2 separate regions of the Homo sapiens genome follow, and region 2 is linked to region 1. Evidence: fine-mapped expression QTL. A gene starts in region 1. The other region holds a variant in brackets. All regions are shown on one strand. Distances are from middle to middle.

The links.
Region 2: its variant is fine-mapped to the expression of PLEKHH2 in tibial nerve (GTEx, PIP above 0.99). The same link has a PIP of 0.9 or more in esophagus muscle, lung, sun-exposed skin, thyroid, transverse colon and unexposed skin.

Annotation. Positions count from the first base shown.
Region 1 is chr2:43,634,393-43,639,775 of GRCh38, forward strand. PLEKHH2 (pleckstrin homology, MyTH4 and FERM domain containing H2) reads left to right here and starts at 2,868. Exons shown (of 30, transcript NM_172069.4): 1 at 2,868-2,987. RefSeq lists a silencer at 2,772-3,101.
Region 2 is chr2:43,708,616-43,713,998 of GRCh38, forward strand. PLEKHH2 (pleckstrin homology, MyTH4 and FERM domain containing H2) reads left to right here. Exons shown (of 30, transcript NM_172069.4): 12 at 1,375-1,511; 13 at 1,605-1,715; 14 at 1,874-1,960; 15 at 3,610-3,768. Among named protein-coding and RNA genes, the nearest start is that of C1GALT1C1L, 35 kb to the left of the region's middle. The variant C/T (reference allele first, on the strand shown) is at 3,004.

The DNA of each region.
Region 1 (5,383 bases):
CGCAAAAATAAACCTCACTTGTCTTAGCCATCACCCCGATCCTTCCCAGCCCTAAGCAACCACCAATCCACTTATGTCTCTATGGATTTGCCTGTTCTGAACATTTCATGTAAATGGGATCCTACAGTATGTGCCTTTTAAATGACTGGCTTCTTTCATTAAGTATAATGTTTTCAAGGTTTATCAATGTTGTAGCATGTATCAGTACTTTATTTCTTTTTACCACTGAATAATATTCCATTGTACCATGTGTTTTTCTCAGCATAGACAAAGATAGGATGCTGTTCCGCTGTATTCTCCATACCCAGACAAATTCAGTTTGTCATGTTTCTAGAAAAAGGTGACAGTAAGTAAATATTGGCTAAGCCTTACAAGGGTGGCAGCCGTGTTTACAAAGCGGCTTTTCATGAGTGACTTTATTCACTCAGTTCTTTTAGTCTAATTAGTATTTCTGACTCACAAACGGAAGTGATTCTATTTTGGCATTCTTTCTCTCTTTCTCCTGCTTGGTCTCTACTGACTTGCTGTGTTAAATTATGCAAGTTACTGAAACTCTGTTTGTTTAACTCCTGCGTGCTCTATAAAATAAGCCCAGTCCAGTCTGCTTGTTTGCCAAAGCTGTTTGAAGACAATTTTTCATATGATATGCATCATCAGCTCCCACAGAAGGCAAAAGGAATTTGATGTGTGGGGGTAGTCTGGGATCCTGTTCAAAATTAATGCTCATCTGGAAGAAATATGAAAGCCTGATACTTGCTTACTGGACTTTTAGTTGTATTCACTTATTGCTTTTCCTCTGAGAAACTTTGAAAATCTTTATCTCTTTTGTGGTTTTTTCTTTCCTTTTTTTTGAGACAGAGTCTTGCTCTGTCACCCAATCTGGAGTGCAGTGGTGCGATCTCAGCTCACTGCAACTGCTGCCTTCCTGGCTCAAGCGATTCTCCTGTCTCAGCCTCCTGAATAGCTGGGATTACAGGCGTATGCCACCATGTTCAGCTAATTTTTGTATTTTTAGTAGAGATGGGGTTTCGATATGTTGGCCAGGATGGTCTCAAACTCCTGACCTCAAGTCATCTGCCCGCCTTGGTCTCCCAAAATGCTGGGATTACAGGCATGAGCCACTGTGCCCATCCTCTGTGTGTGTGTGTGTGTGTGTGTGTGTGTGTGTGTGTGTGTGTGTGTGTTTTATATAAGATGAGATAAAGTTAAAAAAAAAAAGATTGTAGTAGAAAAAGTTTTTCTGATACTCTCTATTGGCCAACTGTGAACCAAAGAGAATAATCTGTCTGACCTAGCTTTGTGACCTGGGGAACGATTATCCATAACATTCAGAATTCTCTTTATTTTACCCTGAGATTGACCTCTCCAGACCCTAAGTTGGGATGTAAAATTCACCTGGATTTAAATTATCACTAATTTACTTATGCAATATGCTCTGTGCTGAGGAGAATGCAAAAAAAAAAAAAAAACCACAAATCCTTGTTTTCAAAGTGCTCACAGTCTAAAAGAGATGTGAGGAGCTGTGCATAAGGCAGAGGGAGCTAAGCCCCAAGAGAGGCAAAAATCTAGATGTTCAGGGAGCAGAAACCAGAGAAGACCTTTTTTTTTTTTTTTGTCTCAGATGGAGTCTTGCTCTGTAGGCAGGCTAGAGTGCAGTGGTGCTATCTTGGCTCACTGCAACCTCCGCTTCCCAGGTTCAAGCGATTCTCCTGCCTCAGCCTCCCGAGTAGCTGGGACTACAGTCGTGCACCACCACGCCCAGCTAATTTTTGTATTTTTAGTACAGACCAGGTTTCACCATGTTGGCCAGGATGGTCTCGATCTCTTGACCTCGTGATCTGCCCTCCTCGGCCTCCCAAAGTGCTGGAATTACAGGCATGAGCCACTGCGCCCGGCCCAGAGACGACATTTCTGCCAGGTGGAGCGACAGACATAGTTACATGGAGAAGATGATGATGATGATGATGATGATAATGATGATGATTTGAGACAGGATCTCGCCCAGTCGCCCAGGATCCAGTGCAGTGGCATGATCGCGGCTCACTGCAGCCTCCATCTCCTGTGTTTAAGCAATCCTCCAGCCTTAGCCTCCTGAGTAGCTGGGACTACAAGTGAGCGCCACCAAGCCCAGCTAATTTTTTTTTTTTGTGTGTATATATATATATATATATATATATTTTTTTTTTTTTTTTGGTAGAGACAGGGTTTCACCATGTTGCCCAGGCTCGTCTCGAACTCCTGGCCTCAAGTGATCCACCTGCCTCGGTCCCCCAAAGTACTGGGATTACAGGCGTGAGCCACTGCGCCCGGTGAGAAGATTATTCTGAGCTTTTTGAAGTGGAGACAGGAAATAGCATGTAAACGCTCCTAGTGCCACTTCCTTCGGGTGGCGAGGTGCACAGCAGTAGTCTCAGGTGTGTGAAGGGCAGCTGTGAGAAATAAACCTGAAAAGACGGGATGGAGACCTTGAACACTAGACTAGGGAATCTGTTCTTGATAATTTAAGCAAACGGAAGCCAATGAAAGTCTTTGGCACACTGTTCATCAAAACTGCTCTTAAGGAAATTAACCTGGCAGGAAGATGAAGGGTGGATTGGCAAGAGGAGAGACTTCAGACTGGGAGACCAAGGGAGGGTGCTGCAACAGTCCAGGCAGACGGAGTGGAATGAAGGTGACCGGCCGCTGCAGCAAGCTCTGGAGTCTCGCAGTTGGGACGTTAGGGGTACCACTCCAGGACAGAGCTCCCTCCTGGGGCAGGGACTGGGAGGAGCCAAAGTTATAGCCACACCCCCGGTGACGCCCGGTGGTCGGCTGTGGTCTCCCATTGGCTACACCGGCTGCCAGTCCCTGGAGGAGGCGGTGCCCTTCCCCGCCCTCTCCGAGCTCGGCTTGAGGCGGGCGCGGGCTGAGAGTCCGGGGATCCCGGGGGCCAGTCGCGGCCGGGACATCGGGCGCTGCGGCCGGGGACCCGCTGCTGAGATAGACAGGTGAGAAAGCCCGGGGACGAGGGGCCACTCCAGAGTTCCTGCCACCCTGGGATCCCCGCCCCCTTGAGGGCGCCCCGTCCAGGGGGGCTCGCGGGGCCGAGGTTTGGGGCGCCGGGAGGAGCGGGAAGGCGGGGACGAGAGGGACGGAGCGGGCTGACTCGGGATCCGCCGCTGCACCTCCCGCCACAGCCCAGAGTCGGCCCCCAAGTCTGGATGTCGCCGGGAGAGGTGGGCAGGGGGCGGTGGCCGGCGGTCCCTCGCGCCCGTGGGCTCCCGTGACGTTCTGTTTGGAAACACTGGGCCCGGGCTTCTGGCGCGGCGCGAGCGGTCCCGGGGGCGCAGCGGGGCAGCCCAGGGTCCCCGAGCCGAGGGACCCGCGCGGTCAGGGATGCCGCGCTCGCCTTAGGCTTCGGGAGATCCACCAGGATCTCCGGGGCGAAACTTTAAACTCAAAACTTTAAAGAAGCATTTTGTACACCTCGAGTTGCTGGCACGTCAAAGCACCCTAAGGTGACCTACCCGGAAACCACTGTCCCCGAAGTTAGTGGGGCACTTTTTAAAGGACAACACTTTTTACCCGTCGATATTGTTGTGCGTAACGCTGTGGAAATAGAAGTCGAACCACTTACATTGGAAAAGCTCTGGTGGTGGGCTACCTGAGGGTCACTGCTTTCTTTGTGAAAATGCCAGTCTTGGAAGCCTGGCCCGCACAGCGGTGTGTCCCAGAGGAGTATGTAGTGAGGAGCTCGGCTGTTCTGGGCAGGGTCACCGAAGGGCAGGCGTTGCCCAAGTGGGGCTAGGTGGCTAGGTGGTGGTCAGAAGGTTCCTTAAACAAGGCATGCCTCAGTCTCGTCGAGAAAGATCTTTTAACACACACACACACACACACACACACACACACACACACACTCACACACACGATTACCCAGCCCAGTTAAGCTGTCCCTTAAGAGGCAAAAACTAAAGAATATCATAGAGACTAACGCTGCGCTTCATCAGGGTAAGCCTAAGTAGAATAATTCTTTCATTTCTTTTTCTTTCCTTTTTGGGATTTGGAAGAGAAACAGGAAGTCAGAGATTCAGAGAAAAGAGCATTCACTCCACAATTGTAAACAGTTTATCTTATGTCAGTAAATACTTCCAAAAATCACTGGGGGTATTTGGAACTCCAAGACTTTTTCCTGTCCCCTGAAGTGAAGATAGATTATTTTCAAATGCAGAATCTAGACATGATAGATTCCTTTCAAATTCAGAATCTATATGTGGTATTTTCTTTATTTAGCAGTCGGCTATGTTATATAGTTATATATATATTCCCAATGTTATATAGTTCTATAACATTAGTGGTAATGAAAAGGATGGCGGATATTGTTTAAAATTAGAATTTTTAACTACCCAAGATGGTGCACTAATACAACAGTTGCTTTGTACTTGTTAACTAACTGAAATTACAGAATGAAATGAGGGAATCAGGTGTCTGGATCTCAGTGCAGACCATTATCCAACCAATTTGCAGTTCTGATTTATTATGACCCATTAATAGGGAATGTAGATGTTAAATGCCAATTTAATAATATTCTTAAGGCTTTGCTACTTCACTATAAAATATATAATTAGCATAACTAAAGAAATAGGTATGTTTGACTTTGAATTAATTTATTATGTCATCATAGCAAAGTGCGCTAGGTAAGATATATGTATGATACTTTTCATATTTGGGGTTAACAGTTACCTCTCAATTTTTTGAGCTAATTGTGAAATTCTTGGCAGGGATAACCACAAATAATGGTTGATTAAATTTGTAAATGCAGTCCTAGTATACATCCATTTAAACTGCGACTTTTTCTTTAGTCATTTGTAAATATGTGATCTTTTTTATTGAGATCTTAATATAAGTCACAAACTATAAGATTTTTCCTTTTAAAGTATACAGTTCACTGGGTTTTGGTATATTCACAAGGTTGTATAGCCATCACCAATATCTAATTCTAGAATATTTTCATCACCCCAAAAAGAAACCCCCTATCCATTGTAGTCAGTATCTGCTACCTTCTCCTCACAGCCCTTGGCAACCACTAACCTACTTTCTGTCCTTTGGATTTGCCTCTTATGGACATTTCATGTAAATGGACTCATACAATATGTGGCCTTTTGTGTCTGGCATCTTTCACTTAGCATAATGTTTTCAAGGCTCTTCCATGACTATAGCGTGTATTAGTACTGTATTCCTTTTTTATGGCCGAATAATATTCCATTGTATGGATGTACCACTTTTTTTTTTTTTTTTTTTTTTTTGAGACAGAGTCTCACTCTGTCACCCAGGCTGGAGTGCAATGGCAGGATCTCAGCTCACTGCAACTTCTGCCTCCTGGGTTAAAGCAATTCTCCTGTCTCAG
Region 2 (5,383 bases), 74 kb after region 1:
GTTTGTCAGTGGTCTCCTTCCGCTAGAATTTGTTCCACGAGAGCCAATATTTTTGTTGTTTGCTCTATCCCTAGCATCTAGGACAGTGCCTGGCACACTGGCCCTGGTCCTGGGAGCCTGAGACTTGTGTTCCAACATTGCCCCTGCCTAACTCTTTGACTTTGGACAAATCCTTTAATCTCTGGGCCTTAGTCTCCTTGGGCCTTAGCCATGACAATCACTGAGGTCCCTATAGGTCTACATTTTTGTTTATTCTATGAAAAATGAAGATATTATAGCAACTGTTACTTGTCTGAGTCAAATAAAAAGCAGTGTCACAAGAGTGGCATTGTTCTAATATGTCCCTTAAATGTTAATACATATTTTTAAAAATTGCTGGATACTTTTATAAATAATTACCTAAGTCCTTGATTTTATTTAATATATTCTAAATCTCCAATTGTAGTGACTCATGAAATGTGGCTTGCAACTCCCAGGTAGTTTTCTGTAAAGGCAAATGAATCATTGTATAAATGTTCCATTGAATTTTATGTTATAGCTGCTGGCAAGTGAAAGAAATAGTTTGTTTATATCTTTCAATCTTATTGTTTCTCTTTTATGAAATATTTTTAAAATCTGTAAACTGCTTAGTAGCTTATGGAACTTGAATGAAAAAATACTACTGAATTGTGTTTTTTTAAAATGTGAGGTTACTTTAAAAGTGATTACAGAAGTTAAGAAATTTAAAATGTGATTGTGAAAATCTTGATAAATTAAGGTTCAACATTTGTTTGCCTATATGTCAATGTGTAAATACACATATTTTTAATTCTTAATAAAATATACATGAGTAGACTCTTGCATATATTTTATATATGTAAAATAGCTGTGTGATTGTAATCATACCAAAATATTATTCCTGTTCCTTTCACTTCCTTAGAGATTTACATGACAGTCCCTACCTCTTAGTTCTGTTTTCTGCTTTAAAAGTTCTTCATGTTGGGAGGCCAAGGCAGGCGGATCACGAGGTCAAGAGATCGAGACCATCCTGGCCAACATGATGAAACCCCATCTCTACTAAAGATACAAAAATTAGCTGGGCGTGGTGGCGCACACCTGTAGCCCCAGCTACTCGGGAGGCTGAGGCGGGAGAATCGCTTGAACCCAGGAGGCAGAGGTTGCAGTGAGCCGAGATTGTGCCAGTGCACTCCAGCCTGGTGACAGAGCGAGACTCTGTCTCAAAAAAAGTTATTTATGGCCAAAGGAATGAGAATAAATCTAGTCTAGGGAGGCTTATGATTTAGGAATAATTGCATTCTGTAGGAGCACTCAGAGCTGGTGTTTGGCCCTCCCCAGTATTAAATACTGACTTGATTTCTTTCTTTGTTCTCTTAGGTGTGTCTCTCTCCTCTGTGGCTTCTGAAAGTGATTATGCTATTCCTCCTGATGCTTACTCCACAGACACGGAGTACTCACAGCCAGAGCAGAAGCTCCCAAAAACTTGCTCATCTTCCAGTGATAATGGGAAAAATGTAAATATTGAATATGATTTTTAAAAAGCAGTCAGTCAGATTGAGCCTCCAAAAGGAAACTGAAAATGCTTTTGTCTATCTTTTAAAAATTAGGAACCACTGGAAAAATCTGGTTATTTATTAAAAATGAGTGGTAAAGTCAAGTCTTGGAAGCGGCGGTGGTTTGTTCTTAAAGGTGGTGAATTACTTTACTACAAATCTCCGGTGAGTGGAAAGTGTTTTCTGTTTAGAACGTAATTCCTCAAACTATAAATCAGACGCCTGATTGATTTCCTTCCCATAATGCAAGTAATGATACAAAGCATTCCTTATTATTACTGTTAAAGTTAATCACTTTCCATTTGTTTTTCTGTTTCATACAGAGTGATGTAATTAGAAAACCCCAGGGCCATATTGAACTTAGTGCATCCTGTAGTATTTTAAGAGGAGATAACAAACAAACAGTTCAGGTACTTAACTTTTTTTTTTTTTTTTTTTTTTTTGTATCATGCCAGACTCAATTCTCAATTATCCAACCTAATGGAAAGGAGATAGGATAATTCAGTGTTTCTTTATTCACTTTGGGGGGTTAGTTTGATGCCTTGGAAGTATGTGAAACTCCACGAATTTTTGGTTAAAACTATAATGTAAGTTAGGTGTGTGTTGAGTAACTCCCACCACACTTTACCTTTCTTCCTTTATACTCTTCTTTCCTCATATTTAATCTCCTAGGTATTTTCAGCTGTCCAACTGTGAAGCTATTTTAAGGAAGGGTTATCTGGTAAATGAATTCTCAATAAGATGTTAGTTATATAATGTACTGTGAAATTCAGGAATGTTTGTATTTTAATATAGAATCTGAAAATGACAGTTCTTATATGAACTTCAGATGCCATAACACCAAAGTGGGAAATATATTGGTGAGCAGAGGGAGTGTGCTGCCAAGCAAGTCACACTGTAGGGGCAGCTGCTGCCCATTTTACTCACACATAAGGCCAGTCTTGCCAGAAATCTGTTAAATTTAAAACACAGGCTGTTGAGATATTCTAGTATATGTAATTTAAAGTCAGACACTTTATTTCTGAAATGTCTTCAATAACCATTATTTTCTTATATTGCTCCTTTGGAGGGTGGAGGACAACTTTGCCAGAAAGGTACATTATCAATGTTTCCAGTGATTTGTACCTGAAAACCTCTCAAAAATTTAGAAAGGAGAATCAAGGAAAGCTTTGTCTTTGGGCATGGCAGTTAAGAATCATTTGTAAGTTTCTGAAATTTGGAAAATTTGCAGTGTGGCTAATTTGAGACTGGAACATTCTGAGTTCATAATATCTAATCACATGTTCGTTCCAATAATTTATCTTCTTATATGCAAGATCTTCTTATTTTATTTATAGTTGATTTTGTCATTTGTATTAAGAAACCTCTTCTTTAGTTGCTAAAACTATGCTATTTTATTATAGTCTTTAATCATTCTGCTCCTCATTTCAATAAGTAGGAACCTGGCCGGGCG[C/T]GGTGGCTCACGCCTGTAATCTCAGCACTTCAGGAGGCTGAGGCAGGCGGATCATGAGGTCAGGAGATCGAGACCATCCTGGCTAACACGGTGAAACCCCGTCTCTACTAAAAATTCAAAAAAAATTATCCGGGCATGGTGGCAGGTGCCTGTAAGTCCCAGCTGCTCGGGAGGCCGAGGCAGGAGAATGGTGTGAACCCAGGAGGCGGAGCTTGCAGTGAGCCAAGATGGCGCCACTGCACTCCAGCCTGGGCGACAGAAAGAGACTCTGTCTCAAAAAAAAAAAAAAAAGAAAAGTAGGAACCTGTAACACATTTAAGCAAGAAAGGGAAAATGTGACAAATAAACAAGATATAAAATCATAACCCCAAAATTAGGTAAACTGGAGTAACAAAGTTATTTCCACAAAAATTTAATTGCTGTAATTCTCACAAAGTGGTTAAAATATTCTAACTGATATGGAGTCATTTATTTAGAAACTGGGACTTGAGATTTAGCATGTTTGCTTCTGTGTTAAGTAATGACGTTTGAATAATGAACAAGGAAATGCTAACAATCCTAAATCTTCACAGTTTTCTTTCCTATACCTTTCTCGTTGCATTCTAGTTGACCACTGAAAAACACACATACTATCTGACTGCAGATTCTCCCAATATATTGGAAGAGTGGATTAAAGTGTTACAGAATGTTCTTCGAGTACAAGCTGCCAACCCACTTTCCCTGCAGCCTGAGGGCAAACCCACCATGAAGGGATTGCTCACTAAGGTAGGAACCTCCTGTGCATAGCAATGTCCCAGGCAGCTATGGGCATGAGCCCATGATCGCTGAAAATGGGATGTCAGAGCATATACATATATTGAATATTGATATGATCTTGGGGATAGGAAAGGGTGTTTTTAAGTATGATGCCCAAGGCAAAAACTATAAAGATGAAAAGAAGACAAATTTGACTATAATATGTAAAAATGTAAAGGCTCTATTAAAAATTCTACGAGCAGAATTTTTAAAAGAAGGATTGAAAAACTTTGAAGAGGTATTTGAAACATGTGAAAACTGGTTAATATCATTAATATTTAACACGTTTTTTTCTAATCAGTAAGCAAACAATGAACACCAATTGGGGGAAAAGGAACAAAAGACTCAATGGGCAGGAAAGAGAGATCATCGAGGTTAGAAGGAATACAAATGATCAATAAGCATATGGAAAAACATTTTACTGTCACTCAATTTTTTTAAAAGCACAGATTGAAATAAGAGGTGGCACTTTTTAAAATCTGGTGAAAAGTAAGACGTTTTTACAAATTTTGAAACCTAGTATTGACACAGATTAAAAAATCTGCTAGTTTCTGCAATTACATAGGCAGTAGAAAAAAAAAGAAATCTGCTAGTGAGAGCATTACTCTAAAAGGCAGTTTGGCAATATCTTGGCTGAAGTGTTAACTTAGCCAATAATTTTGAGTGAACAAATCAATATCAAATCAACACACACACACACACACGCATATATATCTCCTTTGATCCAGCAATCTCAGTTTTAAAAATTTATCCTTAGGAAGTGGTCTTAATTTGCAAAAGATTTAATTATGAGATGTTCCTCACAGCATGTTTTTTTTCCTATTTTAAAAAATGAGGTATGATTAATATATCTGAAATGCACAGATCTTAAGTGTAGAGTTTGACTAGTTTTGAAAGCTATTTACTTTTGACTCTATCAAGATGCAGAACATTTCCATTACCCCAGAAAGATTCCTTGCACAGCATGGTTCATAATAAAGAAAAATTGGGATCAAATTAGATGTAGGGTAAGGTATAGCTTTAAAAAATGTTTGTACAACCATATAATGCTTTACTATGCAGCCTTTTAAATGTTGTAAAAGAATATCTAATGCTATAGAAATATGATGTATTGTTAGGTAATAAGTAGAGTGCAGTATTACATTATTATACCTTATTTGTTGTAAGTATTTATAGAAAAATGTCTGGGAAATATACCAAAGTATATTGGTTATCTCTGTGATTTTATTTATTTTTGCTTAATTCTGTTTTTTTTTTTTTTACAATGAGTAAGTATTGACTTAATATTATTTTTAAGTTTTAAAAAGTCCTATTGGTCACTTTTTGAAAAATACAACAAAATATGTATACACACATAATCACTCCTCATTCATGTACTCTGATTATGTAAGAGGTGGAAAATTAGATGGAAAGTAACTATGCTACTGTGTAGTTTATACTTATTATTAATGTGGGAATGTAGGTGGGTGTTATTCCATAATATTTAAAAAGACTGACCAACTATAGCAAAGGTAAAACTTAATTCACTATTGCATTAAACAAAGAAATATACTATGTACTATGTTTTTTCTAAAATACGACTGTG